Regions from separate parts of the Homo sapiens genome. Here region 2 is linked to region 1. The links come from fine-mapping of genetic effects on plasma protein levels. Region 1 holds a variant in brackets. A gene starts in the other region. All regions are shown on their forward strands.

Region 1 (15,470 bases):
TAGTCAGAAGGTGGAATGAGTTTTGAACAAGTTAATTGTTTTGAAAAACAGTATGAATGTACTGAATACTTTTGAGGTGTGATCTTCTAATTGCTCTAGCAAATTGTATTGGTCATAAGAAAATGTTTGAATTTTTCCAGTCAGTCAGTCATTGTATTAGTTCATTCCCATGCTGCTATAAAGAAGTGCCTGAGACTGGGTAATTTATAAAGGAAAGAAGTTTAATTGACTCACAATTCTGCGTGGCTGAGAAGGTTTCAGGAAACTTACAATCGTGGCAGAAGGGGAAGCAAACACATCCTTTTTCACATGATGACAGAAGTAAATGGGGAAGAGCCTTATAAAACCATCAGATCTCATGAGAATTTGCTCACTATCATGAAAATAGCATGGGGGAAACAGCCACAATGATTCAATTACCTCCCACTACATTCCTCCCACAACACGTGGGGATTGTGGGAACTACAATTCAAGATGAGATTTGGGTGGGGACACAGCCAAACCACATCACTATGCCCCTGACCCCTCGCAAATCTCATGTCCTCACATTTCAAAACACAATCATGCCTTCCAAACGGTCCCCCAAAGTCTTAACTCATTCTAGCATTAACTCAAAAGCCCAAGTCCAAAGTCTCATCTGAGACAAGGCAAGTACCTTCCACCTATGAGCCTGTAAAATCAAAAGCAAGTTAATTACTTCCTAGATACAATGAGGGTATAGGCAATGGGTAAATGCACCCATTCTAAATAGGATAAATTGGCCAAAAACAGGAGCTACAGGCCCATGCAAGTCTGAAATCCAGTGGGGCAGTAATTAAATCTTAAAGCACCTTAATAATCTCTTTTAACTCCATGTCTCACATCCATGTAATGCTGATGCAAGAGGTGGGTTCCCACAGTCTTGGGAAGCTCTGCTCCTGTGGCTTTGCATGGTACAACCCCCCTCTCGGCTGCTTTCACGGGCTGTTATCCAATTCCAAAGTCACTTCTGCATTTTTAGGTATCCTTATAGCAGCACCCCACCTCTAGTACCAACTTACTGTATTAGTCTGTCTCATGCTGCTATAAAAAACTTCCCAAGACTGTGTAATTTATAAAGAGGTTTAATTGATCTACAGTTTTGCATGGCTGGGAAGGTCTCAGGATACTTACAATCATGACCAAAGGGGAAACAAACACATCTTTCTTACATAGTGGCAGGAAGGAGAAGAATGAGAGCTGAGTGAAGGGGGAAGCTCCTTTATAAAACTATCAGATTATGTGAGAATTTATTCACTCTCATGAGAATAGCATAGGGGAAACCACCGCAATGATTCAAGTACCTCCCACTGGGTTCCTCCCATGACACGTGGGGATTATTGGAACTACAATTCAAGATGAGATTTGAGTGGGAACACAGCCAAACCATATCAGTCATTCCACATATTGAGTGATTTCTCTCTTCTATTCACTATTCTTCCACAGAGAGGGACCTGTAGTCATTACCTTCAAGGAACCTAAATCCTGGTGTCTTTATGGTTATGGGTGGCATATAATATACAGGTAAGCCAATGTTACAGGATGTTGTGAGACTATTCCTGTTCTTCCATAATTAGCCACTAGGACCACGGCTGAAACCAAGAGGCACTGATTACCGCCTCACTCTAAAGAGAATTACTGAGTTTGTGCTCACTGCTGGGGCCAGATCTCTTTGCAGGGCTATGTTTGGCTTTACACAATGTGACCCTCTAGTCTGTACAAGGAGAGGAATGCAGAGGGAAAGAGATTCACTGGAGTCTCTCGTCAGTGACCTGGTGGTGAATATATGGTAATGGGTAAATCCCACTTCACCTGATGAAGAAAAGGAGAAGGATGCACTTCATTCTTAGAATCTAAGCAGGAACAGGAAAGGGAAAATCTAGGAGAAAAGCTTACAAAGACTAAATGTCTTCAAGAAGGTGAGAGAAACTAATATTTGGTTTACTGTCAGCAGGCTGTTTGGGCGGCATTTTGCCAATATTAGCCCTATCCCTACGTGAGTAGGGGAAAGGGAATTGTGGTTGGACAACCGAGTTCTGAGAAAGGCAGTGATTGAGCAGCTGAACTCCATCCATTTGGTGGGTAAGGACCCCAGAGTATTCAAAGGATCAAATGGAATGTGACTGAAGAGTTATCTTGCCGATCTTACCCAGGAAGACTGTCCCCTAGGCAAGGGGACACCAAACACAAAGAGGCATGGGATAAGGATTTCAAGATGAGAGTTGGGCAGAACTGGAGTTTAATCCCCATGTCATGGTAAGGCCCTCTGAAATTCTCTCTATGCCTTTGAGAGACTCACCATTTAGATTCTGACTCCTAGAGTCCCTTAGTGGCCAGTCAACGTAAGTCAAGTTAGTAGCTACAGCCGTCAGGCACACGATTACACCGTGAACAGTGAAGTAAAAAAATGTCCTTTCTTTGCTTTCTTCCTCTAATCACCATCCCAGAGGCATGAAAACCTAGAAAAAAGAAAGTAGCTGTATAGCTTTCATTTATGTGTAAGATTGGTGTTTTGAAATTTTAATAACAAAAAAGACTAGAAAGTTGCCTATCTCCCCAGAATGTTTCTAGTGAATAGGAATAAGAAATAGGAAAAGTATATTCCATACAGTATAAGCAAATTTAAAAAATTGATTTTTTACCCTACTGAATTGAGACTTGCCAATAACCAGTTATACAAATAAAGAGGGTAGTCCTGGGAGCTGAGTGCTATGAAAAAAATACAGGAAGAAAATGAAAGAGAAATTAATGGGAAGGAGGGAAGAAGACTACAAGCTGCTTTGCGTTGGGTAGGCAGGGAAGACCTATTTCATTCAATGAAATTTTCCTGAGTTTTCCTGTGTTCTAGCCATTATTCTGGGCTCTGAGGATACATAGTAAACAAAGCAGATGAAAAATACAGTCATCAGAATTTTCTTTGAAGGTGTGAGACAGGAATAATATGGAGGCAGTCAAACAAAGATATGAAGCAAAAAAAGGAGAAAAAATTAGAACAAAGTTCCTAAGAAAGGAGCAAGCTTAGTATGTTGGAGTTTTGGGGAAAAGTTCAGTGGCTGCAACCTAATGACAGGAGAGAGTGGGAGAGGGTTGAAGGGGGCAGGCCAGGTGAGCTGAGCATGTGGACAAGTCAGAACTTCAGAGAGCATGCTAACAAGTGGTGATTTTATTCTGGTGCAGTGAAAAACCTACTGGAGATTTTAAGTAGGAGAAATACATGATCTAATTGATAGTTTGAAAAAATTGCTCTGTGAAGGAGGGAATATAAAAAACAAGAGTAGAGACAAGGAGACAAGCTGTGGGGCTGTTACTATATTCCATGCCATCTCATCCATTCTTTTTAGTAAGAATAAATGCTGCTGGTCACCTTTTAGTGATTACTTTTTAAAATTTCAAAATATTCAGAGATGGGGATACTTTAATCTGAGGACATTAAAATATACAGCATTTTTATGCTTTGGTAGACCTAGAAAAAGTTTAATAGACTTAGGTAAGACTTACATTAAAGTGATTACTTTTGATTTAAAGGTAATAGCGTTCAGCTGAGAATGGAAATAATTTTCACCTGGTTGGCAATATTTGCAATCACTTCTGAACCTTCAGTTTTATCCAGTTGAATAATAAAGGTCTAAAATTTCCTTCATTTGCTTTTGTCAGAGCAAGTTATGTTACCAATAATACCACCTACAAGAGAGAAGAGCCATGAGAAGTGTCAAGGACAATCTATGAGTAACTTAAGTGGAGGCTGATATAACATATTCTCTAATATATGATGCCCTGATAGCATTTGACAAGACCATTTGGAAGAGACCCAGATGGAGACAACAATTCTAGTTAATATGCTCCATTGAGTGATGTTCATCAGCTGATTGTGTGAACTCAGGCTGAACTCTAGTCATAAAATTTGGAAAGAAGGCAGTTTGAGAAATGGTATATTCTTCACTGTGAAATGATTGACCTGAGCATGAAATCAATTCTAAAAATAACTAAGGGGCAGATAAGTTCATGACCAAGCTTATAAAAATGAGAACCACTCAAAAGATCTCCAGTTTTATTCCTAAACCTATCTGTGCTGAAGAGCTTTTTGGATGCTTCGCACAGGACTGAAATTCTTGCCTCTAATTTGGACAATGACAGTTCTCTGTAATCCACAATTGAATGGTCACTGGAACATGTTAGACACGCAACATAGTCAAAGAATGCATAGATTAGGGTAACTATGTCAATTATAAGTAAAACCCCTGTAGACTAATGTAACTCTATCTGTTAGGGAGATGTGTACTAGCAACTGTATTGTTGCTATATGTATATATGTATATATATGTATATATATATCTAGTTTTGAAAAAGTTAATGGCTTTTGTTATTGTCTCTTTAAAAATGTAATATAGTTTTGTTACAGAAAATTAAGAAGCTAGAAAAAAAGTATAAAGAAAAAGATGAAAATTAGCTATAATCCCAACAAGTGAAATTAAGCTCTATACATATCCTGGCATCTCCCCCATCCCACAAACCCCTCACCCACAGAAAGAACTTTTAATGTAGAACTGTCTGCAATCTTTTAAATATGCAACAAACACCATTCCTTGTCATCAGACCTACCAGATTTTATCATGGTGTGACTGTAATGTCTGAGGTTTCTGAAATACTTTAGAATTTATACATTCAAAGCAGTCACCTTGAGAGGTAATAACATTCATTTATTCAAATGCAGATGCTGAACATAGCAGATTTGTGACAATCTCTTACTGCTCACTTAGGGGAGGCATACAGCATATGGCCATGGCCTGCTCTATGTCCTGTTTTTAGGATGGGAGAAAAGAGACCTCAGACACTCCTCCTTCTGACTCCAAGGATAAGGCAGTCAGAATGTATCTGGTGTGTACTAGAAGAGGAAACATGCTGCACATTGGGACCCCAGGTCCTTTGGTTTTACCTGTCCTTTCTGAGGTGTGGGCATCCTGGGGTCCCTCAGAGATTTCTGACCCAGCCATCTCAGTAAGATCTGCTGTGTCCTGGAGGTGATGAGTGCTCTCCAGAGTTCATTTGAAAGTCAGGCCCTTCTCTATGTGCTCCTACCCCTGTGCCTGTCATTCTCTTTACTGTTGAGGAGGGACCTTAACTCCTGGCAGGCGAACTATAATTAAGATCAATGGGTACTAAAGTAAGCCTATCAGAAATCTGGTTTTTGACAAAGATTTGAATAGAACTTGGTCCTTGCCCTCAAGGATCTCACAGTATGATAAACTTGTCTTTGCTTTTTAAATTACAGTGCCGTTTCAGCAGTCAGGCACCTTGGGTACTTGACTGAATCTTGTTCTTTTCCAATATATTTCACATGAGACTTCATGTTATCCTGGACAACCACCTAATGAGAGTCTAGGCTGAAGTCTTCATTCCCCTTCTGCATGTGCTCTGCTGTTGGCTTTGTTCAGACCCTTCTTTCTTCTCATCTATCCTACTGTAATGGGCTTTACATTTTAAACATAACTTGAAATAACAAATCATGACTATAATACCTGCAAATGGTTTGTATTTTGTTTTATTTTTATTGAGAAGTAGAGAATACAGTAATAGGGAGGAAAACAGGGAATTAGGATAGCCAAGGGTTGGAGCATAAGCAAAGGAATAGCAGGTGCAGCCAGTCTGCATAAGCAAGAGAACAGCAGGTGCAGCTGGTTCTAGGCAAGATCAGGCAGCATGCAGGCCACATCCTCATTCCTGTGATAAAAAGACAGAAGTTTCCACTTCAGCCTCTGCTTGACCATGAGCTAAGCCTCCACTTCAGCCTCTGATTGGTCACAGGCCAATCCTTCATAGGGTGTAGCCAATTGGAGGCTTCTAAAGGGTACCTAAGGGGTGTTGCCAAGTTCTTTTGGCTTTATAAAGACCCTAATTGGGGCCGGGCACAGTGGCTCACACCTGTAATCCCAGCACTCTGGGAGGCTGAGGCAGGTGAATCACTTGAGGTCGGGAGTTTGAGACCAGCCTGGCCAACATGGCGAAACCCCGTCTCTATTAAAAATACAAAAAAAAAAAAAAAAAAAAAAAAAAAACAAAAACCAAAAACAAACAAAAATATTAGTCAGGCGTGGTGGTGGGCGCCTCTAATCCCAGCTACTTGGGAGGCTGAGACAGGAGAACTGCTTGAACCCCAGAGGCAGAGGTTGCAGTGAGCAGAGATCATGCCATTGCACTCTAGCCTGGGTGACAGAGTGAGGCTGTCTCAAAAAAAAAAAAATCCCCAAAAACAGAAAACCCCAATTGGAGAGGCTTTGAACCCCTTGCTTAAGCCCACTCCCAGTCTGTGAATGGTCTTCAATAAGTCTGTGCTTTCCTTACTCCATTCTTCTGTTGCTTTGTCTTTCATTGCTTTGTTCTTTTGTTACTTTGTGCATTTTGTTCAATTCTTTGTTCAACATGCCAAGAACCTGGACAACTCTGTTGGGTAACAGTGGTTACCAGAGGCTGCTGGGGTAGGGGAGATGGGGAAAGGAAACTTGTAAATATTTTTGAAATCAAAATTATAAGGAATTATAATAAAAATTATTAATGAACATTAATTAATCACTAACAGTGCACCAAGCACCATTCTAAATGATTGGTAAGTATTAACTCAATCCTCACTATTGCTCTTTCAGAAGGTGGTAGTGTTATCGTCAGTACATTTTACAAATAAGAAAAGTCTCAGAGAGATTAATTAACTTGTCTAAGACCTCACAACTAGTAAGTGGCAAAACTTGGATTCACACCCATGTTCTCTGGCCATAAAAACTATGTTTTTAACCACTATGATATTCTGCAACAATTTTCTCTTCCAACCTCTCCCCGCTGTTCATCTTATGCTCTAGAAGCTAACACTCACACTGGCAGTCTTGGTGTTTTCCAGGTAGCTCATTCAATCTTGGGGGGAAACCTTATTGTACAAATCATCTTTTTGGCCCTTTCTACTTCATCAGTCAGAATTCTTTCATTTGCTTTCAGCTTTCCAAATATTTATTGAATTTACTCATCTCTTGTTATTTTCCCTTCTGTTATTTTCATTTTGTTTTTATAATTTAGACGGAGTCTTAGAAAAGAGAGAATATAAACTCAAATGATCATCTGCCATCTTGATCTAAAAGGGGGATACTCCAGACGTAGAGGAGTATGATTTACACTAGAGTCCATCAGGTGTGACTTGTGACCAGACTTAAGCCTGCTTTCCCAACCTTGTCTCCGACTTTTGAGCCCCATATGTTTTAATGTATGTTTCTAGTATATGCTTCACATTTCCCTGAGTCTGAGTGCCTCCCTCTAATCTCTAACGCTTTAAGTCCTCCTGAAAGCCATAGCTGAATATGATCTCTCTTCCTCAGCTCAACTGCTAGAGGACTGGTAGTACCTAACCAGTGGTGCGTATCATGTTTTCTCTTTTATTATAATAATTTCTGTTTTTTTTTTTTGAGACAGGGTCCCACTGGGTGGTCCAGGCTGGAGTTCAGTGGTGTAATCTCACCTTACTGCAACCTCTACTTCCCCAGCTCAGGTGATCTTTCCCACCTCAGCCTCCCACATAGCTGGGACTACGGGCATGCACCACAACACCTTGCTAATTTTTGTATTTGTAGTAGAGATGGGGTTTTGCCGTGTTGCCCAGCCTGGTCTCGAACTCCTTGGCTCAATCGATCCTCCTGCTTCGGCCTCCCAAGAAGCTTCTTATGAGTATTAGCAGATCCTTTTGCCGTGGAAAAAGAACATTCAGTTTGAAATCAGGTGCTGTAACAAAATCGTGACCTATATGGCATTAGGTTAGTATATGGGTGTCAGGAGATAAAGAATTAGATAATAAATGCTAGAAAGCAGCCTATTTATGCTATGCTGAGGTAAGCTATTTAGTAAGTTTTGTCTACAATAACTTTGAAAAAATACTACGTATCTTCTGCATCTGTAGTTTAGGAGAGCTTAGAAAGAGCTCACATTTTAGTGTTTGTTGACTGTTACTGCTTTTAGCAATATTGTAAGAAAAAATGAGTTCAGGAAGGTATTGGCTGATTTTCCAGAAGAAATTAAAGCTATCAAAGTGTTAGAAAAGCCAAATACATCTAGTCCTAAAACTGTAGGAGATAAGACTGAAAAAGACTTAGAGGCAAAATACATATCAATGCTTGTCATTAACTGAAGGAACTCAGCCCTATGGCTAAGATCACAACGAGAATATAGTTTTCATCTTCGCCCATTATTTCACTAGCATCAAAGAAGCTGCCATTAAGTTAAAGGCAAGTGCTCAAAAAATAAAGAGATTTAAAACTATGTCTCTGAAATAACTTTGGGTGTAGTCAGGCAAATGGAGCTCAGTGAAATTGATTAGAAATCAGCAAATTGATTAGAAATCACAGGTTTCTAAGGGAATCGTATTGCCAAAGTAATCATGAGACTGACTTGAAAAGCCTTTGCCTATTTCCTCTCTAAAACAAACCTAGCATCGTAAGACAATGTGTTGCAAAATCTGAACAGCTTGCAGTGAGGGCACACTGCCTAACACTCACTTAAATGTGGCCATAGAATTAAATGACCAAGGAAGTAACTTTCAAAGTGCAAAGCCAAGAGCCATGGTGAACAATGACATTTCTTCTACTTCCTGGGAAGGAGTCTTCACAATGTTTGCCCAGTGGATTCTATCATTGCCACGGACCTATGACTGATGTGTGTTTCACATTAATCTCTCTTTTGAATGGTAATTTTTATTGCCCATATCTTAGCCCAGCTCTACCAATGTGTTTTGGGTATGGTAGTGGGCAGATTACTTTACTTTTCTTAGTTTATTGGTTTTCTGGCCATGGGAAACTGCATTTCAATCTAGTGAGAAAACAGTACATGCCCCAAAATTCTTGGCTTTGAGCTACATGCTATCAGCTTAGATCCATAAATGATGATAGAAAGAATAATCACTTTCCCCACAGGCCTAGAGTAATATTCCTGTACCATTACCTGAGAAAGAAATAAACTTCTTGTGTGTAAACAAAATTATGCTTTGGGACTTAAATTGCCCTAGTTAATACTGTATACAATCAATTAGGTGGGATAAAGTAACAATAATCTCAGGCTGTGAAAATACTCAAAGTCAAGTGGGTAGCAGCAAATAGGCTGGGTAGGTGTGGAATCGGGAGCACATCAAGGCTTGAGGATACAGCAAAGTATCTGCTTACAAGAATAGGGCTAGCCAAGTGGGCAGAAACCAGACAGAAGAGTTAGGTTTCAAGTCCAGTTTTTAATCCTGGTGGAGGAATTGTGGGGAAAGTCATTCCTAGAAATACAAAAACCAACATTGGTCACTTTGCTTTAAGAAACTTCAAATCATCAAGAAAACTATTTTTACTTCCCTGTCTGCAGAATCCTTGAGAAAAAAACTCTAGGTCTGTTGTAGTTTTGATTTCAAAAGGAGTAAACTGGTCTATGACATAATCACTTCGGTGGACTCTATTCTAGACACAGTGAAGGAGTGAGATGTGAAGGTGCTCTGTCATTGCCTCAGTCAAGACTTTCATGGTACATTGGAAGAAAGAGAAGCGTGAACAAATTGCATGATACTTGAGGTCATGCTGTGTACCTGTATTGAACAAGAATAAGGGAAGAAAGCTGGGAACCTGGATCTCCCATATATTGGAAGTTTTGTAAAAACCTTGAGGTGAGTAAATAAAAACAAATTCTTAAAGGTTTTTCAAAAAACAATTGATTACATGGTTATCATGTTTTAGAGGATTCTGTTTAGCTTTAGAAGTGAAGAGCTATATGGGTCAGAGAATGTGGCAACTTATAAGTTCTATATCTTTTGCTCAGATGGTCCCAGTGAGAGATGAGGGCTTCATTTGCTTTTCTTTTAGGTTTTCTTTATAAGTTGTCTTAGTCCATTCTCACGCTGCCATAAAGAACTGCCTGAGACTGGGTAGTTTATAAAGGAAATAGGTGTAATTGACTTACTGTTCCCCATGGCTGGGGAGGCTTCAGAAAACTTGCAGTCAAGGCAGAAGTCACCTCTTCACAGGGTGGCAGGAGAGAGAATGAGTGCCAAGCGAAGGGGTAAGCCACTTATAAAAGCATCAGATCTTGTGAGAACTCACTCACTATTGTGAGAACAGCATGAGCAGCATGAGGGTAACCACCTTCATGATTAAATTACCTCCCACAGGGTCCCTTCCACTACATATGGGGATTATGGGAACTGCAATTCAAGATGAGATTTGAGTGAGGACACAGCCAAACCACATGGTAAGTCCTGGTGGGAACCGTGGTCATTGCTATATAGGATGACTATTACAGTTCTAGAAATAAACTCTTTCCTAGAGCAGACTTATTTTGAGGGAGAAACAACAGAGGCACATTTTTCTGCCTTCTGTTGCTGGGAGTGCACTCTCTTGTTGCTTCCTCAGGTGCTAAAATGGAGAAGTAGCCCGATTTTTCAAACTAGGATTTGAATTATGAATTAAAACGTATTAATCTGATGAAGGATTATATACACACTTGCTCTTAATATTATGTCAAACTGATATATTTGACATATATATGTTTTTTAAATTTAATTATTAATTTATTTATTTACCTTAAGTTCCAGGATACATGTGCAGAATGTGCAGGTTTGTTACATAGGTATACATGTGCCATGGCGGTTTGCTGCCCATATCAACCCGTCATCTAGGTTTTAAGCCCCGTTTATATTTTTATTGAGGTAAAATATACATATATAATTTGCCATCTTTACCATTTTGCATATACACTTCAGTGGTAATAAACACAATTGTGTTCTTTATTTTGCCTTCATCATCCCCTCCCTGCTCTCCTTCCCGTCCTCTGGTGATTACCAATCTACCCAATCTACTTTCTGTCTTCATGAAGTCCACATGTTTAGCTCCTACATATGAGTGAGAACACGTGATATTTGTCTTTCTAATATGTGTTAATATTAAAAAAAGTTTTAGAAACACTTCACATTTAAAAAGTGGAATCACATTCCTTCCAAGGTATACGAACTAAGTTGTCTTATTGTTGAGTTAGGAAACAGATATTTCTGGCTTTCCTTCCCTTTGAAACATTTCTCCTTCAGCTTTCAAGGCTTATTTCTGCAGAGTCACAGCACAGTTTAAACACA[C/T]CCCAAAAAGCATGTTTCATGAGATATGAACATGGGGCAATACCAAGATGTCTCTGGTCTTCAGTTTTGAAGTAGAGCTCTAGCTTAGAAATATTCAACAGCAACCAGGAATGTTAGTACTGCATTGTAAGTCCGTGGCACTATTTCTTGAACAAATACAAGAAGAAAGAAACTACTGAGTGTTGAAGTTTTTCTTTTTGAGCTTTAAAATTTATGCACTACATATTTTTTTAGTTCAGAATAATCATACTATGTTTTCTATTTTTTCATTAAAAATTCATTTCTACACATATTTTCACTTGTAGACAAAGTGTACACGCACTTTTTAATTGGCTACATAATAGTCTATTTTGTTAATATGCTAATATGTAAATTATAACTGACACATAGACATTACTAAGTTAGTGAACATTTGGGTTATTTTCTTTTTGCTATTTGTTGATGCAATTAATATGTAAAGTCAATTACAAAATAATAATTTACACTTTTTTGTAATTTTACTGGAGCACATTCTTCAAAATGGAAATACTGGGCCAAAAATATATAGACAAATTTGTGAATTTTGGAATATATTGCTCTATTGTTTCTGAGTCAATTTACAGTTACTAATAATGTATAAGTATTTTTTCCCATTATGCCTTATCTAAGTCATCAACAAATGCTTTTGCTACATTAATACTTCTATCTGTATAATGGTTGTATTAAGTAAACAAGACTCATAGAATTCAATTAGAAATAATTTGAGTCATGGCTCCTGTGTCCTTTTAAATGTCTTCTGTAGAACTGGTCCTTGCATTGTTCCTCTGCCCAAACATCCCATTACTCTTCTGGTCACCATTAGGTAATACAAATGGCTCTCCAGTTTGTAATTAAAATGTCTATACCAATGCAATAATCAACATTTCCATTCTGATTTAAAATTAATGTTTGTATTTCTTCTCTTCCCTGGATTCAGGAAAGGAATGATCTAGTCAACTTCTCCCCAACCCCAAACTGGAGCATTTATTCCTTTTCTTCCATCTTGCCACTCAAAGTTTCTAAACCCTCCAGCACTGGAACACAGGAAGGAAAAAACTAGGTAAAGGAGTAGGAAAGTCCGACTAGACCAATATTTCACAGTGGTCCCACATTTTCTCTTGGCAGAGTTTTACATTTGAACCTTCCTCTTATAGGTATTCTTGAGAGTTCTTCAGAATTTTCCCATCACTTGGGACTTTTCATCTGATATTCTCTTGGCTTGTATAAATCCATGTCTGTTTCAGTTGTTTGCCTGCATCCTTCTTCAGTCCCTCATGGGTAAACAAAGTATTAGATGTCTGGCAACACTTCTGTTTTCTTTCTCTTAAAAGTTATTGGCCTCTCTAGGAAGTCATTTCCAACATGACAAAAGATAACTCACAGGAACATTTTTTTTTTTGCAGTTGGTGTGTATAGAGCCCACAGGAAACTCATTTTTTCACTGCCTCTTAAAACTGTAGGAATGCTTGTCATCCCTAGCTTTCCAGTATCTCCTTAATATACTTTCAGGGCAGGACTGGGGCCATTTTTTTGCCCTTTAGATATCTCAAGTAAGAGTCATAATTCTCTGACATTCCAAGGACACATTCAAGTTCTCCCAAGACCCTCTAGAGCTCTTGACAAAGTGAAGAGAGAACCTCCTCACCTCTCCTCCTTAGGAGAGACCTTGAAGACACACAAACAGCTCTCTACACTCCCTTTTGTTCAGTCACCAACTCCTTACACTTTTATTCTTTTACTGTTGGTGAGAGTTTTAGAATTGTACAATCTTTAGACATTTCCTTTGGAAATTCTGTATTAAGTCTTATATGTCAACCTGGAATGCAGTCTTTATTGGATATAAGGTGTCAGCCCGATCATCTATTTTGGTTTTCTATTACTTTAGCTAAGACTCTTTCTATTATAAATGACAAAAAGCCTAATTTAAAAAAACCAGCTTAAGCAAAGAGGGGATTTATTGACTCCCATAACTGAGAAGAGGTTTTGTCTGCTTAGGCACATCTGGATGCACAGCTCTTCGGGACCTAGCTCACTTTCTCATTCTTCCTCCATTCCTCTCCCTCTCTCCTCCAGCTGTCCTTCATGTGATGACTTTATGTTCAGACAGGTTATGCTGATGTATCCAGCCTAGTCTGCTTTCCATGTTAAAAATGATCCCAGGTGGTCTATATCACTTTCCAGTGTTCAAATTTGGAACCATACGCATACTAAATTTGATAATCAGTCAGATGATGAGCACTCTCACCTTCCCTTTCTCATGATTTCCTGGCCTGGCTGTGATACCTATACACAAGTATTTTACACCATTCTTACTCCAGGCTGCTCAGCCAGTTGTCAATTTTAAGATCCCTCATTCTATGGTCACACTTTTGACATTTTAAGTGTAGGTTTAAGAACAAATATTATCATACCTCTTAATAATTAATTTCTTTTCATGGGTAAATAAGGTATTAGGAAATAATAAGTGTATTTTAAAAAATGAATAATCACAACTCAGGGTACAAAACTATGACTGTATTTTTTCCATAATTGGATTTTTTTTTTATTTTCTTTTTCTTTTTTTTTTTTTTTGAGTCGGAGTCTTGCTCTGGCACACAGGCTGGAGTGCAGTGGCACGATCTTGGCTCACTGCAACCTCCGCCTTCCAGGTTCAAACGATTCTCCTGCCTCAGCCTCCTGAGCAGCTAGGATTACAGGTGTGCACCACCATGGCCAGCTAATTTTTGTATTTTTAGTAGAGATGGGATTTCACCATGTTGGCCAGGCTGGTCTGGAACTTAGGTGATCTACCCACCTCAGCTTCCCAGGGTGCTGGGATTACAGGTGTGAGCCACTGCGCTCAGCTGGATTTATTTTCTATTTTGAGAACCCACCTGTTGTGTCTTTTGCAGACAAGTAATATAGTATCTTGCAGGTAAACTTATAAAACATAACTGTGCTTATCCTTTTATTTTTCTTTCTCTTGTATTAATTATGGCTTAACACTAAGCTCTACAGCTATATACAAATTCAATATAAGCACTTTTACATTCTTTAAAGATAAATTAGGGCTAGTTCTGAAAAGCTGCTTATTTTCCCATACAAAAGCAGATTTTGTATAGAATCATGTTTGAGTCATCTTTTGCTGTAATATACCTCTTTCCATCAAAAAGCATTTGTGCGCTTCCTCCTTATGGTTTAACCTTGGTTTAGTTTCTATGCAAAATTTAAAAAAATCCAGGGGCTTTAGTCTGAGGGAAACAGTTGTGGAGAATATCACTCTACACATTATATCAACATGTAAATAAACTAGACACTTTTCAGGTTTAAGAAGATACGGGAGAGAATTGCAAAAGTTGCACATGACTGCCATGAGGATTATCTCTCACTACATGAGAGTAAATTTTTTTCCTTTTGGACTGATATTAATAGTTTCTTCTTGTTTTTCATTTTTCTGTATAAATATATAACTCTTGTGACATTTCTGCCAGGCAGTTATTCTAATCTTCATATTTCAGATAAAGAAACCAAAGTTATGTGAATAAATAGTGAGGATTCAAATCCTGGCTCCAAATCTGATTCTCTGTCCACATCACGCCAGACCAAACCTTTAAGAGGTCACTGTGTATCATGCCATTTTAAATATTAATAAAGGCTTCATGAAATAAGAAGCAAATTTTGTTAAGCCTCTCAGGAGTTACAAAAATGAATTAAAGTTCTTGCTTTTAATGAATCATAGTTAAGAAGGGTATGGAATTCAGATCGTAGTAATGCTACAAAATATGCATAAGTGCTGTGAGGATTCAGAGGAGATGTTTACATCTAGATGCTGAAAGTGGGTTAGCAGTTGGCAATGCACATGCCCCCTAAATACAGCTGAGGGCATAAATGCATTAGAACTGGTTGACACAGTGAGAGGCCTATGCATCACTTTGGGTCAAAGTATTTATTTATTTTTATTTAAATAACATTTGGCTTTTAGGAATTTCTTCTAAGAAATTTGCTACATTTGATAGGATATATGTTTAGAATAAACCAGAAGGCTATTCTTCAATCACTATATATCAATATCACCAAAATACGCCTTTGTCCATGCTGTTCTTTGGCTCTCCGTTCAGAGTTGTTTTTGGAGTTAAATTTCTATTGCAAGAAAAGGTCATTCTTTCTTCACAATGCCTCTCAGCCTTCTCCATTCATTTTTTCCCTCATTTAGATCTTTTGCTCATAACGACACAAGCAAACAACCAGGGCTGAAGAGTACAATTCCATAATCAGCATCACCAAACCTTCCCATCCCATCCCCAATTTTAAGAAATCCAACATGAGCCATCCA
Region 2 (15,470 bases), not on the chromosome of region 1:
ATGATCTCAGCTCACTGCAACCTCTGCCTCCCAAGTTCAAGCATTTCTCCTGCATCAGCCTCCCAAGTAGCTGAGATTACAGGTGCCCGCCACCAAACCCGGCTAAGTTTTGTATTTTTAGTAGAGACAAGGTTTCACCATGTTGGCCAGACTGGTCTCCAACTCCTGGCCTCATGTGATCCTCCCGCCTCGGCCTCCCAAAGTGCTGGGATTACAGGCGTGAGCCACTGTGCCCAGCCATAAGCAACGTTGATTCTTTCTGTGCTTTAGGAGGCATCTGTTACAACAGTCCAGACAGGAGGTCGTGGGAATATCGTCTACAGCAGGCAGTGGTGATGGAAAGAAGATGGCAAGAGACATCCTCAGGTGAAAGGCAGGGTAACTACACCTTATTCCTCATCATCTTTCTTTATTCTTAATTAATCCACCCACTAAGAACAGAAACAGATCACAAAACTTCCTAATTTGTAGAAGAAAAAAATGAAAGACAGAGTGTGTGTGTGTGTAGAGGAGCTATAACTTGATTAATTGAAAAGACAAGGAAGGGGGAAAAAATGAAACTTAGAAGTGGGACAAATAGAAAATACAAAATAAAGAGCAGAAACGAATGAAAAAGCAACCAAACCTACAATAGAGAGGATCACCAAGACTGCCAGATGGTTCCTTGAAAATACTAAAAAAAACCTTGCAAACCTCTGACATGACAGATCAACATAAAAGGGAGTGGGCACAAATAAACATTATTAGGAACTAGAAAGAAGACTTAACTACTGACATAACAGAAATGAAAATGAAACATTATGAACTCCGTGCCAACACATTTGACAACCTAAATGAAACAAGTTCCTAGGAAAAGTAAAATGATCCAAACTGACTAGAAAGCTTGAATATTCCTGTCATCTTTAAGAAAAATGGAATTCTACACAGTGATGAAAATAGTTACTAACACTACCGCAAATGATTCTTGAAACACAGAATGCGGCTGATGAAACTAGTAAATTTTATGTATATTTTACCATAATAAAAATAAATAAACTTGAATGGTTAAAAAAAGGCTGAGTGAAGACAGCCAGTCACGGTAACATATATAAAAGGTCAGAAACATTCAAAACAATATATTGTTACACAACAAAATATTTAGAGGTACACAGACAGTAAATTAACGTAGAACAGCAAGAATGATTAGCATAAAATACAGCAAAGAGGGTACTGCTGGTGGGAAGGGTGAGGTACATGACCAGGAAAGGAGTACACAAAGCTTCCCAGTTACTGGTCACGTTCTATAGTTGGGTGTTTTATTCTTAAGCCACATACACACATTATATAAATATACTTTTAACACACACACACACACACACATACATACATACACACACACACACACACACACACACACATATATTTTTTTTGTGAGCAGAGTCTTGCTCTGTCACCAGGCTGGAGTGCAGTGACCCGATCTCAGCTCACTGCAACCTCCGCCTCCTGGTTCAAGCAATTCCCTTGCCTCAGCCTCCTGAGTAGCTGGGACTACAGGCGTGCACCACCGTGCCTGGCTAATTTTTTGTATTTTAGTAGAGACGGGATTTCACCATGTTGGCCAGGATGGTCTTGATCTCCTGACCTCGTGATCTGCCCACCTTGGCCTCCCAAAGTGCTGGGATTACAGGTGTGAGCCACTGTGCCCGGGCCCACATATATACATATATATTTGAAAACCTCTGCTTGCTTCATTCACTAAGTATTTACTGAGCATTTTTAATCTGCACATTACTGTACTAGGGACTGAGATGCAAATTAAATAGCTTCTCAGAGACCTCCAGATCAAGGAGGCAAGATGGTAGGAGAAAGAGGAGACTCACAATGGGTCAGGGTGTCCAGGCCAAAGAATGACTCTCAGTCAAGAAGGAAACGGACCCTAGCAGTGTCAAACGGTGCTTCCACTGCCAATGTGCCTTCCGTTCCCATTCACCTCCCACATCTCTCCTTCACATCTAACTTTCTGGAATCTGGCGTCTGCAGAATTGAATAGAAACTGTCTCTTCCTCCCCACAAAGGGTCTTGTTGCATTACATTCCAGGCAATAAAGATTAAAAACAAACAGGATAGGCGCGGCGGCTCACATATGTAATCCCAGCACTTTGGGAGGCCGAGGTGTGCGGATCACTTGAGGTCAGGAGTTCGAGACCAGCCTGACCAACATGGTGAAAGTCCATCTCTACTAAAAATACAAAATTAGCCAGGCATGGTGGCGGGTGCCTGTAATCCCAGCTACTCAGGAGGCTGATACAGGAGAATTGCTTGAACCTGGGAGGTGGAGGTTGCACTGAGTCGAGATCGTGCCACTGCACTCCAGCCTGGGTGACAGAGCGAGACTCCGTCTCAAAACAAAACAAAAACACCAACCAACCAAACAGAAAAAAAAACAGCAAGGCAGCTGTAGGGGGCAAGGCAAAAAACAACAGACAAAAGTCAGAAGATGTTTAGACCACAGGCCTGCCCCTCTTTAACTACAGGACTCTACTCACATCCCTTTGAAGTGAGGATAATACTGCCTACCTCACAAGGCCATATATTTTACATATCGGATTAACCAAGGTTAAATGGGAGTCACAATAACTCCTGCTTTGGAGCCCTGGTGTGAGGACTACATGTGGCTATGCATGTGTAGGCTTGGCTCGGTCCTGGCACATCTCAAGAGCTGCACGGGGCCAGCTGCTGCTTGAGTGCAGCAACGTTGCATTTCAGCAGGTCAACAGGAACTCAGCAGTTGTTCAATTTAGGGTCCACACAATAAGAGCAGGCTGCCTGCTTGGAAACACAAGATTATTCCTGATCATAATCACTGCTAGTTATCAAATGCTTCCTCTGCCAAGTACTGCGCTATGGGCTTTACACGTGGTATTTCTATTCCTTTTAATGGTCTTCTGAGGTAGATGTTATCCTCATTTTACCAAGGAGGAACTGATGAACTGGGGGTTCAGAGAGGTTAAGTATCTTGTCCAACGTCACATGGAAGAACTGGGATTTATGGAGGAGCTGAGATTTGAAGTCAGACAAATAAATTTAACCTATAGAACTTTACAGAAGGGTGTCAATAAGGGCATGAACAATGTCCTCAACATCTATCCTTACAATATGCACAGAGGACAGTTTCATAGGGCTGTTTTTTTTAAAAACGGATTTTAACATAATTACTATGTGTACATAGACAATTAAGAATAGGGAAAAACCCCAAATTAATGTTTTAACAAGTTACAAGCTGTTACTAAAGACAATATCCTTGGATTTAAAAAAAAAAAAAAGAGTACAATAGAGGAAGTCTCTCATTCAACCGAGCAGTTTAACCAATCTCTTTTAATAAATCCAGCACATTACAGTGGTATAAATTTATCTTTTTTAACACTCCACATAAAAACATGTGTCCTCTCTTACATTTAATCATTAGTAGTCTCTAAAATGGTAAAATAAATTGAATTTACATTAGCAAATGAAAGTGCAAATTTGTACAGCTAGGCTCAGCAGCAAAAGTGAAGAATAAGAATGAAAGGTGAAAAGCTGGTGGATGCCATGCAGAGCGAGGACTTCCATAAAGGTCTGTGCCCTGCGGCCAAACACAGTCAACACACCACCATTTTCTTGTTGCTCTTAAATGAGCAAAACCAAATTTCTTTTTTATTTAATGAAATATTAAATCTTTATTTCCCCCTAACATAATTTGTGATCAAGTAGGACAGAGGTAAGTCCCACCATCACTGGGGACAGTAGCAACACACAGACTTCAGAAACAGCCTTGAATCATCAGTAACATCCTCCCCTGGTAACGTTAGAAGGAATGCATCTAATGACAAATTTGCAATGTTGTCACATTGTTCTAATTTATTTGATTAGTTTATCTGGAAAAACTTTACACATTATTGAAGACAACAGTAAATTATTTTCTTGCTCTGAAAAAATAATGTTTTTTCACATTTTAAAACCTTTTAGTATGCTTTTGCAAAAGTAGTTGCAAGAATATGACAGCTGGGTTTGCAGAATGTCCATGTACAAGTTTGTATTTATAAGAAACTGGTAATCTGCCTATAATTTGCCTCTACAAATAGAGCTCTTTAAAATAATATTTTTAAAAAAACAGGCTTAAACTTTTCCCTATTCATTCTACTTGTAGCAAAGAGGTACTTACTTTTCAAGTATTACATGGTAAAAGGCACAAGTTTTTTTTGCCAATTTTAAGCTGTTAAGCTTTAAGACCAAACTATGTGAAAAAAAATCATGCCTAGTCAATCCTAGTCAATCATTTTATAGCCAAATCCTCTTGTCTTTTAAATAACGCAGAAAAATACTAATTTGCTAAGAAGGAGCACACTGGAAAAAGCCATTTGAAAGTACTGAAGAATGAGGAGTATTTTTTTTCTACTGATGAAAATTATTAGGAAAGCTATCCTGTCTGTTGTCTTTAGCTAGTTTAAATAAATCTTTTCAAAATGATGGTCAAGAAATCTTTAGAAAACTGGAAGAGGGGATGCTCTTTTATAGCATGAAAGGAATTCCATTAATTATAGAAATTCTCGTTAAATTTTGACGTTGGTTCTTCAGAAAAAATACGCATTTAACTTCTGCAGTCTGTTGTGTTTGAACACCATCTACCTGAGCCAGGGGCCCAAGCGTTCCTTCATCATCAAAGGCCAAAACTGGATTCAAAGGAACTTCTGGGCTCTTACTGTTAGTGACATCTAATCTGGATGGTTTCGATCCAATGGGTAAATTTATAATTTCTTCAAAATTTTCATTCTGAACAGAGATACTCCATTTTCATTTGGTTTTCCAAATTGGGGGTGCTCTCCACAGTCACTTTTGATTGGTGTGAGGTAACCACATATGGGCTGGCAACTGGTTCTCCATTTCCCAGAGCATTTGTTGTACACGGAAGTATAGATAGCTCTGTTCCTCCAGTGAGAGCTCCCTTGGCTATATCACCATTTCTCTGATCAATGGTTTTCTTATCTGTAGCTTCTGTTCTCCTGCTTCAGGGCTGTTTCTTATAGCAACCCTCATATTGTTCACCAAAGCACAATGCAGTCATATCATCTGAGGACCCGGATCCAGGTGGGAATGGGAAGGTAAAGGACCACAGCTCTCAGGGGGTCTGCCTTAACCCAAAGGTAGATTTCAGTTTACAGATTAACTTCAAATGCACTAGTAAGTTTACTTATTATGTTTACTGCCTCCCCTTGCTGGAATGCAAGATCCATGAAGGCAGGGATTCTTTTCTGCTTTGTCATCATGTGACTCAAATTCCTCGAACAGTGCCTGGCACATACTAGCAGTTCTTTTTCTTTTTTTTTTGTTTTTGAGACAGAGTCTAGCTCTGTCGCCCAGGCTAGAGTGCAGTGGCACAATCTCGGCAACCTCCGTCTCCTGGGTTCAAGCAATTCTCCTGCCTCAGCCTCCCGAGTAGCTGGGACTACAGGGAGCACCACCACGCCCAGCTAATTTTTTTTTTAGTAGAGACAGGGTTTCACCATGTTGGCCAGGATGGTCTCAATCTCTTGATCTCATGATCCGCCTGCCTCGGACTCCCAAAGTGCTGGGATTACAGGTGTGAGCCACTGTGCCTGGCCAATATTTAATGAATGAATCAGGTTAACAAAAATTAAAAGTTGACAATATCGGCCGGGTGCAGTGGCTCACACCTATAATCCCAGCACTTTGGGAGGCCAAGGCAGTGGTGCACGCCTGTAATCCCAGCTACTCTGGAGGCCGAGGCAGGAGAATTGCTTGCACCCGGGAGGCAGAGGTTGCAGTGAGCAGAGATCACGCCACTGCACTCCAGCCTGGGTGACAGAGCAAGACTCCGTCTCAAAAAAAAAAGAGACTCACCATCAGAGAAATGCAAATCAAAACCACAATGAGATACCATCTCACACCAGTTAGAATGGCGATCATTAAAAAGTCAGGAAACAACAGGTGCTGGAGAGGATGTGGAGAAATAGGAACACTTTTACACTGTTGGTGGGACTGTAAACTAGTTCAACCATTATGGAAGACAATGTGGTGATTCCTCAAGGATCTAGAACTAGAAATACCATTTGACCCAGCCATCCCATTACTGGGTATATACCCAAAGGATTATAAACCATGCTGCTATAAAGACACATGCACACGTATGTTTATTATGGCACTATTCACAATAGCAAAGACTTGGAACCAACCCAAGTGTCCATCAATGATAGACTGGATTAAGAAAATGTGGCACATATACACCATGGAATACTATGCAGCCATAAAAAGGGATGAGTTCATGTCCTTTGTAGGGACATGGATGAAGCTGGAAACCATCATTCTCAGCAAACTATCGTAAGAACAAAAAACCAAACACCGCATGTTCTCACTCATAGGTGGGAACTGAACAATGAGAACACTTGGACACAGGAAGGGGAACATCACACACCAGGGCCTGTTGTGGGGTGGGGGGAGGGGGGAGGGAAAGCATTAGGAGATATACCTAATGTAAATGACGAGTTAATGGGTGCAGCACACCAACATGGCACATGTATACATATGTAACAAACCTGCATGTTGTGCACAGGTACCCTAGAACTTAAAGTATAATAATAAAAAATAAAAAATAAAAAGAGACTCCATCTCAAAAAAAAAAAGCAATGTGGCAATGTCTAGTAAAATTGAGAATGTACCCAGTAATTTTTCTAGTTAAATAACCTACAGAAATTCTAAGGCAGGTGCCAAAGGAGACACCTAAAAGCTTTTCACTACAGCAATGTTTGTAATAGCAAAAAATACTATAAATAATTTAAATGTGCATCTCTGTAAGAATGAATAAATATACTAAGTAAAATGGATGCATAAAATAGACTATTATAAAAATTAATGAGAATAAACTAAATTCTTATATTGGCATGAATAGTTCTAAAAAACAATGTAAGCAAAATGCAAAATAAAATGCAGGAATTTTATTAATGTAAAAATTTAAAATACTACTGTATATTGTTCAAGGATATCTATTAATATATTTGAATGTAAAAGTATAAAAAAAAGTAGTTGTCCATGGAGAAGTAAAAGGATGTAAGACAGGAAATGAACAAAGCAGACAGATAAACAAAACAAAGAGGGAAAAAGAGACCAGCAAGATTTTCCCTGACATTAAATACTAAAATAAAATACTTATGTCTGTATGTGGCTCAATATTGGCAGGGTAAAGTTTAAAGCTTTTTATTCTCAAGTTGATTGTAATCGTTGAGAGAACAAAGGAACACACTGGTGAGTTTAAAGCTTGGGCCTCTACCTGGCATGAGTAGCTGCTTTCCGCACCAAATCCAGAACATCTGTACTGGGGGTGTCTGACACTTGCGTGCTCTCTCTCATTCTGACCCCTTCTTTCCCCTTACATATCATTTTTTTTCCTTTCTTCCTTCCCTTGGGTCTCTTACCACAAAAGCTCCGCACCAGACTGGGGTTCTGACACTAACTTGGCATGTGATTCTGGGCTGCCACCTCACCATTCTGAACCTCAGTGTTGTCCCCTCTAAACCTGGGAGAACACCCATCCTGCCTGGAGGCAAGTATGGCTCGCTGTCAGTTCTCCTTTCTGCTGTTTCTCTATTCCAGCATCATCTCCAGCAGACTACAGGCATACAGAGCCTCCGCCTTAATCTCACCTCTGCTCTTTGTCTCTGCTTCAGCTCCTGCTGGGCTGATTTCTGTTTGGCCTTCTCAACTCTGCTGACAGATTCTTTAACTTTGGTTTTTTCTTTACGTGCAGGTGGATCCATGGCTTGACTTCTGGATATTTCTTAGGAGGCTCTGATCTGGGTGGTACAGAAAGAGGCAGATCTTCAAAACAAAACAAAACAAAAAATACCCTGCCAGTTACTCCTCTAATCCTTTAGCTCCGCCCCATCCTTTGCCAGGTGAGGCAGAGTGGTCTGGTGGCAAGGGCGCTGGATGTGGGGGAGTAGGAACCGAGTCCCAAGGCCACAACCTCGCTGGGTGTCCCTGGGCAAGTCTCCTCCCCACTTTGAGCCTTAGTTTTCTGTCTGCAAAATGGGTTAAGTGTTTTCCTGGCCTCCCTCCAGGAGCTGCTGTGTGCGGGTGAAATGCAAAGACCCCTGTGAAAGCGTTGCCCACTGTGCGGCGTGCGGCACCCAGCGCGGAACCGTCCTAATGGGACGCTGAGACCCAGAGGGCGCCCAGGGTTTTCCCACTGCGGCCGGCCTAACTCCGCCGCAGCAGCCGCTCCTGGGGCCAGGGGGCCGGGCCCCATAGCCAGCCGGGCCCGCCCCCCACCGCCCGGCCCCCCGACCCCGCCCCGGCCCGCCCGGCCCCAGGGGACGGCCCCCGCCTCCTGCCCTCTTCCCTCTCCTGGAGGAAAATGGCGGTCGCTGGAGCCGCCGACCAAGAGGCTTGGGAGTCTGTACCTTTCCCGACCGGGCCACTGGAAGTTGGAGCCTCCGCCGAGTCGCAGACAACGCCTCCGGGAGGGTAATCCTCGCCTTCCCCCGACCACTGGACCCAGCGCTGCCTGCCCACCGCCCCTCGTCCTGGGCGGGGCCGCGCGCCGGGGGGAGGGGCGCAGGGCCGAGCGCCAGGAGGCTTCCGCCCGCAGGAGCGGCCGCGCGTGCGCAGAGAGGATGGCTGGAAACCCGCGTAGAGGGCGGGGCGGGGCAAGCCGGTGCCGGGGCGGGGCAGGGGCGGAGCCACACCGGGGTGGGTGGTGGTTACGGCTAACCAAAGCTTTTTCCCGTTATATTTTCTGCAACAGCTACTAGGTTTTAGAGGGTGAGATCCGAATCCTGGAATTGGAATTGCTCAGAATTCGAATTCCGAGGCTCAATTTCTTAATTCGAAAAGTGGGGATTGATGATTGCCACCTTCTTCATTCATGAGTTTATTGGGAGGATCAAGTGAGATCCCGTTTGCCACAGTGCTTTGAAAAAGGAAATCTTGACAGAAGTACCAATAGCCAGTATAAATACAGAGAACATTCACGTTCAACTGATTACCGAGGAGATGTAAATTAAAATAGCTGGCTGTAATTTTCCAGGTATTACATTAGCAAGGATTGACAAAAATGATAATAGCTACCTTACATTTGGGCTTACTATATTCCAGGCACTGTTCTTACAGCTTCACATTTATTAACTAATTCCTCATAATAAGTGTGTATAATGTATACGTGTATATTATTATCCCCATTTACACATAAGGGAACAGAAGCATTGAAAAGTTAAGTGAGTTGTCCCGGGTCACACAGCTTCTAAGTGCTGGAGCAAATATTTCAGCCAGGATTCATAGGACAATGGCCTTATCCAAAGTAAAACCCTGTTTGGGTCCACTATTTGTTCCTCTATCAAACTGGCAAGAATTGAAACAACTGATAGATGCTAAGCAAGCAATGAACTCAGCCCAGATGGACACACGCTTCCAGTCAAACTGTAAATCGTTAACAGCCTTTCTGGAGGTCAGTTTAGTACTAGGTATCAAAAGCCTTAAAAGTGAGCACAATGCCCCAAAAAGACAAATACTGCATGTTTCCATTCATATGAAGTATCTAAAGCAATCAAAGTCTAAGAAACAGAAAGTAGAATGGTGACTGCCAGTGGCTAGGAGAGAGGGAAAAGAGGAATTGTTTAAAGGGTATAGAATTTTAGGTTTGTAAGGTGAAAAAGTTCTAGAGATCTACTGCACAATGTTTATTTTTTATTTATTTAATTTTTAAAAAATAGATGGGGTCTTGCTCTGTCACCCAGGCTGGAGTGCAGTGGTGTGATCATAACTCACTGTAACCTGGGCTCAAGCAATCCTCCCACCTCAGCCTCCAAAGTATCTGGGACTACAGGCACACACCATCATGCCTGGCTAATTTTTTAAAATTTTTTTGTAGAGATGGAGTCTCACTGTGTTTCCCAGGGTGATCTGGAAATCCTGGGCTCAAGTGATCCTCCTGCCTCAGTCTCCCAGAGTGCTGGGATTACAGATGTGAGCAATTGCGCCCAGCTTTTCCAAAATTTCTACAGTAAACGTTTATACTTTAGCAATCAGAGGAAAGTACATTAAATGTCTTTTTAAAAACCCTATACAAATGCTGATTCGATTATTATTAATAAAAGTAACCAAGTCAGAGTCTATTTCAGAAATCTTGATGTAGTACTGGTATTTTACATTTGTGTCACATGGTATGGTTTATAACGTTCATATAAGCTATGAACTAGATTACAGCTGAAGACACGGCAGGACCTTTAGAAGCCAGCTAAAAACAAACCAGCTATAGGGAATGGAGGAGTGGAAAAGCCACATGGAAGACTGGAAAAGTAGTGGTGCCACTGAGCCACTGTTGAAAGTGGAGAAGGTGTGATGAGTTGGTTTGGGAAACGGTGAGGAAGAGGATAAGTTAGGAGCGTGTGTGTGTGTGTGTGTGTGTGTGTGTGTGTGTGTGCGCGCGCGCAAGAGAGGGACCGAGAGAGAGAAAGAGCTAGATTACGCTTCAAGTGGCAATAGGCAAGAAGAATTGTCCAGTGAGCAATTAGAAGATTTCAGAAAAGAACGGAACTGGAGATACCAGTTTGGGATTCTACATTCTTTATTGGGAAGGTGAAGGTTGGAGCCAGGAGGGAGTGAATGTTGAGGCTGAACACTGTCAAAGTCCCCTCTCTATTCTTTCCATGAGTTTATGCTTTGTCTGTCTCTTTTGTGTCTACCAGTGGACTCTTGGCCAGGCTGCAGAATTTCCTGGTTTGTTGAATGACTAGCAAGAGTTTATAGTAATATAACTAGAATATTTTTACAGTTGAGGTATATACTACACTAAGATTATATTCACTTTATTGAATAATATTTTTTCTAGAGTCAAAAAATTATCTATTTTTATTTGCTTAATGATCTATGCATCCCTTGTTTATTTTTTATTTTCAGAGGTGGGCTCAAGTGATCCTCCCGCTTCAGCCCCTCAGTGGCTGGTACTACAGATGTGAACCAGGTCATTTACCAGTGTCTTTTTTTTTTTTCTTGGCAGCATCCCTCCTTAGACTCATCCTCTCTTTGCTCCAAACTCCTCTGCTTAGCCTTGCTTCACAGCTCTTGTCCTAGGATTAGGGACCTAACCACATTCTGGGGATTCTCTTCTTGTTTCTCCTGTGCCAAATCCCCTGCTCTCTGGATCTTATGTTTTTCCATTCTTGGTTTATTCTCTCATTTTGGAGGAGTATGTTCTCCACTAACTCCCCAGAAGGGGTTCATGGAAGCTAAATTTTTGAGTCCTTGCTTGTCTAAAAATGGCTTTATTTTCTTTCATCCTTGAGTGACAGATTTCCACATTGGAAATTATTTTCCCTCAGAAGTTTAACGGCATTGATTCATTGTCATCTAGCTTCTCATGTGGCTACTCTTGAGGAGACTGATTTATTCTGACTTGTGTTACTTCCCATATATTTTGTTTGTTAATTTGTTAATTTGTTTAGGATATTTTTCTCCTTTATCCTTGATGTTCTGAACGTTCATAACAAACTGTCCTTTAAGTATTTTTCATTCATTATGCTAAGCACTCGGTGGCCCCTTTCAATTGGGAAACAAAGTCTTCAATTCTGGGAAACGTTCTCTGTGATCAGTTTCTCTTTTTTTTTTTTTTTTTTTAACAAATAGAGACAGGGTCTCCCTATGTTGGCCAGGCTAGTCTTGAACTCCTGGCTTCAAGTGATCCTCCTGCCTCAGCCTCCCAAAGTACTCAGATTACAGGCATGAGCTGCTGCACCCAGCCAGTTTCCCTGTTTTTAAATTTTTCTTCATGTTCCATTTCCTGGTTTTGTTTATTCTAATTTACAAGAGATTTTCCTGAGCTGTATCCCCTGGTTCTTCTATTGAATTTTTTCATTTCTGCTACAAAAATGTTAATTTCCAAGAGTTTTTGTTTGATCCCCGACTTTCCTTTTTGGTAGCCTCTTGCTCTTATGTTGTGGATTCAGGATCTTCTCTTATTTCATATTTCTGAGGATTCCAGTTGTAATTTTCTGCTGTTTTCTTCTGCTTCCTAGATTGTCTCTGTTGTTTATTTTGGTCTCTGGCTTTCAAGTTGGAGCTTATCCTCAGACAATAACAGCTACCATTGAGTATCAGCCCCTATTTTAAGTATTTTGCATGTTTTAGCTAATTTAATCCTTACAACAACCCCGGGAGGTAGAGCCAGGCCCTGGTCCCTCCCATCCCAAGCCTGGAAGGTTCTCAGTTGAGAATCAGCTTTCTTCTTGCTGATGTCAAGGGTTGATGTCAGGAACCCTTTATCTGATGTTTCCCCCAATCCTGCCTCCCTCTGCAGGCACCTGGGTTAGAGTTCAGTTTTTCCTAGCTCTATTACTAGTGAGCCCTCTGCTTTCCTTCATTAAAGAAATGTATTGACATCTCTATTGCACAGTTACTTACTGTCCTGTTCTCTTTGTCCTTATAGGCTTTTCCTTTTGCACTCCAAGATTGTCATTTTAGATCATTTTGGGAGGTAACAGAGATAAGCATTTGTGTTCAATGAGACATGTTTATTTAACTGGAAATCTAGAGCTCCCTCTTTTTAAGTCAGGAAGCATATAGACCAAAAAAATTACAGTGATTATTACTGGATTCTGAGATTACGATTATGAGTGATATCTTTATCTATGTCTGTATCTGTTTTTCTCACTCATAGAGTTAGAAGTCTAAAAAGAACATTTCAGATAAGAAACTCATTTTATGATGTGATTTAGACTATCTGATAAAATGCTTCTGGAGAAAGCAGTAAAAATATTAATTATGACAAGTTATAAATTGGTACAATTACTTTGGAAAACAATTTAGTATCATCTATAACCTGGCAATACTACTTCTAGGTATATATTCTGAGAAACGCTTTACATTTAAAAATTATTGAGGACCTCAGGGAGCTTCAGTTTATATGAGTTATATTTTTTGAAATTTTCCATATTAAAAATTAAAACTGACTGGGTGTGGTGGTTCATGCCTGTAATCCAGCATTTTGGGAGGCCAAGGTGCGAGGATCACTTTAGGCCAGGAGTTTGAGACCAGCCTGGGCAACGTAGTAAGACCCCATCTCTACAAAAAAATTTTTAAAAATAGCTGGGCTTGGTGGCATGCACCTGTAGTCCTAGCTACTAGGGAGACTGAGGCAAGAGGATCACTTGAGCCTAGGAGTTCAAGGCTGCAGTGAGCTATGATTGTGCCTTTGCACTCCAGCCTGGGCAACAGAGCTAGACCCTAGCTCTAAAAAAAAAAAAAAAGAAAACTAAGAAAAATTAAATATAATTACTACTTTTAAAAATAAAAATAATAAATTATATAACAACAAAACATATATTTATGAAAAGCAACTTTTTTGAAACAAAAATATTACTGAGTAGCACTGCTTTATATTTATATAAATCCTTTTTAAAAAATTAATTTTTTTTTTTTTAAGATGGAGTCTCACTCTCTCGCCCAGGCTGGAGTGTGGTGGTGTGATCTCAGCTCACTGCAACCTCCACCTCCCAGCTTCAAGCAATTCTTGTGCCTCAGCCTCCTGAGTAGCTGGGATTATAAGCGTGTGCCACCACGCCTGGGTAATTTTTGTATTTTTAGTAGAGACAGGATTTCGCAATGTTGGCCAGGATGGTCTTGAACTCCTGAACTCAGGTGACCCGCCTGGCTCAGCCTCCCAAAGTGCTGGGATTACAGGCGTGAGCCACTGCACCCAGCCCTAATTAATTTTTAATTGACACATATGGTACATATTTATGGGGTACAGAGTAATATTTTGATACATACAATGTGTAGTGATCAGATCAGGGTAATTGGCATATTCATCTCAAACATTTATCATTTCTGTGTTTTGGGGACATTCAGTATCCTTTCTTCTTTATTTGAAACTACATAATATATTATTGTTAACTATGGTCATCCTACAGTGCTATAAAACAGTAGAAGTTGTTCCTCCTACCTAGCTGTAATTTTGTGTTATTGAACAAATCTCTCCCTATCCTCCCCTTCCCTCTCCAGCCTCTAGTAACCTCTGTTCTGCTTTTCACTTCTATGAGATTAACTTTTTCTTTTTTTTTAACATCTAACTATGAGTGAGAACATGTGGTGTTTAACTTTCTGTGCCTGACTTATTTCATATAACGTAATGTTTTCTAGTTCCATCCATGTCACTTTGAATGATGGGATTTTATTCTTTTTAATGGCTATAAATATTTTAGATGTCTGGCTTAATAGAAGACAGCTGTATTCTCAAGCCAGCTATATCTTTCAATCTGCTGCAGTATGTTTTGTGGTTGAAGTGTATGCAATTGGAAAAGGAGCATTTCAGTAGCTTTTTCAGATAATCGTGGATATTCTTTGATAAGACACCAAAACTCAGCAAGTGGTAGTTTTTTAAAGCTTAGTTGTGACATGAAATCTGAAACCATAGCAATGACCTTTTTATACTCTATTACAGCAACACTCACAGTTTTTTCTTGCATTTTAAATGAATGTTTTACCCATGCAGGGTTTTGTCAACACACCCATTGGTCATTTGGAAATTGCTGAGTCACTGAGTTTTACAGATCTTCTAAATGTTGACACATTTCATTATACAACATCAAAAAATCACATTTATTAATATCAATGCCAATCTCATCAGAAAAGTCTTTTGCTATTGTGAGGGTATCAAGCAGCAGATAAAAATTTTCCAAAATTCTAATTTTTGCTCAAAAGATTGAATGTTCTCATTGACAACAAACACTGTCAGTTGCTTTTCCTGAAGTGACAGGTGCACTTTATTCATTTTGGAGAAAATGCCTGCCAAATACCCAAGTCTGAATAATTATACTTTGTCTTTCAGCTGTACTTTCAGGTAAGAATGGTGCTCCATGAGTCAAGCGATTACTTCAGCTCACAACTCAATCACTTAAGGTTTTTTCCTCGATAAAGTCATCATACTTTGATATGCAGCGTAACTGTTTATGCATCCTTCCCATTTTGTCACACAAACTATTAAAAAGATGTGTATCTAAGAGTTGAAATTTAATAAAATTTGTAACTTCTACTACAGTTTGGTGCCACTTCCTGATTTGTGCTAGCTGTTTTACCCACTATTGCTTTTGCAGTGTCCTTGAAAATGTCAATACCGTGAAAAAGGCAAATAACGTCTTTATTATGATGAATGTAGTTTTAACCTGGATGATAGGGCCTCAGGGACTTCAAGTGTTTGTGGACCACACATTAAGAACTGGTGCTCTAGAGAAATTCTTGCACATGTGAGCAGGAAATACCTATCAAGAATGTTCAGGGCACGAGGCCGGGCGCGGTGGCTCACGCCTGTAATCCCAGCACTTTGGGAGGCCGAGGCGGGCGGATCACAAGGTCAGGAGATCAAGACCATCCTGGCTAACACGGTGAAACCCCGTCTCTACTAAAAATACAAAAAAAAAAATAGCTGGGCGTGGTGGCGGGCGTCTGTA

Which allele goes with the higher level. Alleles are on the strand shown, and positions count from the first base shown. The strength of an association depends on the size of the effect and on how common the allele is.
For the plasma level of the protein whose gene starts at base 8,365 in region 2, allele C in region 1 goes with a lower level than allele T (weak association).

The links. PIP is the posterior inclusion probability: the model's chance that the variant is causal. Protein levels are from antibody-based Olink assays in UK Biobank. Linkage for the fine-mapping came from a reference panel and not from the study's own genotypes, which makes the PIPs less certain.
Region 2: ERMAP starts here. The variant in region 1 is fine-mapped to the plasma level of the ERMAP protein (UK Biobank, PIP 0.97).

Annotation. Positions count from the first base shown.
Region 1 is chr4:144,093,833-144,109,302 of GRCh38, forward strand. It overlaps LOC105377460 (a long non-coding RNA gene), which reads left to right. Exons shown (of 11, transcript XR_002959803.2): 5 at 1,465-1,542; 6 at 9,484-9,682; 7 at 10,184-10,263. Among named protein-coding and RNA genes, the nearest start is that of GYPA, 39 kb to the right of the region's middle. The variant C/T (reference allele first, on the strand shown) is at 11,141.
Region 2 is chr1:42,808,758-42,824,227 of GRCh38, forward strand. ERMAP (erythroblast membrane associated protein (Scianna blood group)) reads left to right here and starts at 8,365. Exons shown (of 12, transcript NM_001017922.2): 1 at 8,365-8,496. SVBP (small vasohibin binding protein) reads right to left here and starts at 8,640. Exons shown (of 3, transcript NM_199342.4): 1 at 8,433-8,640; 2 at 7,674-7,823. The coding sequence starts at 7,787. RefSeq lists silencers at 7,514-7,583, 8,144-8,343, 8,494-8,783.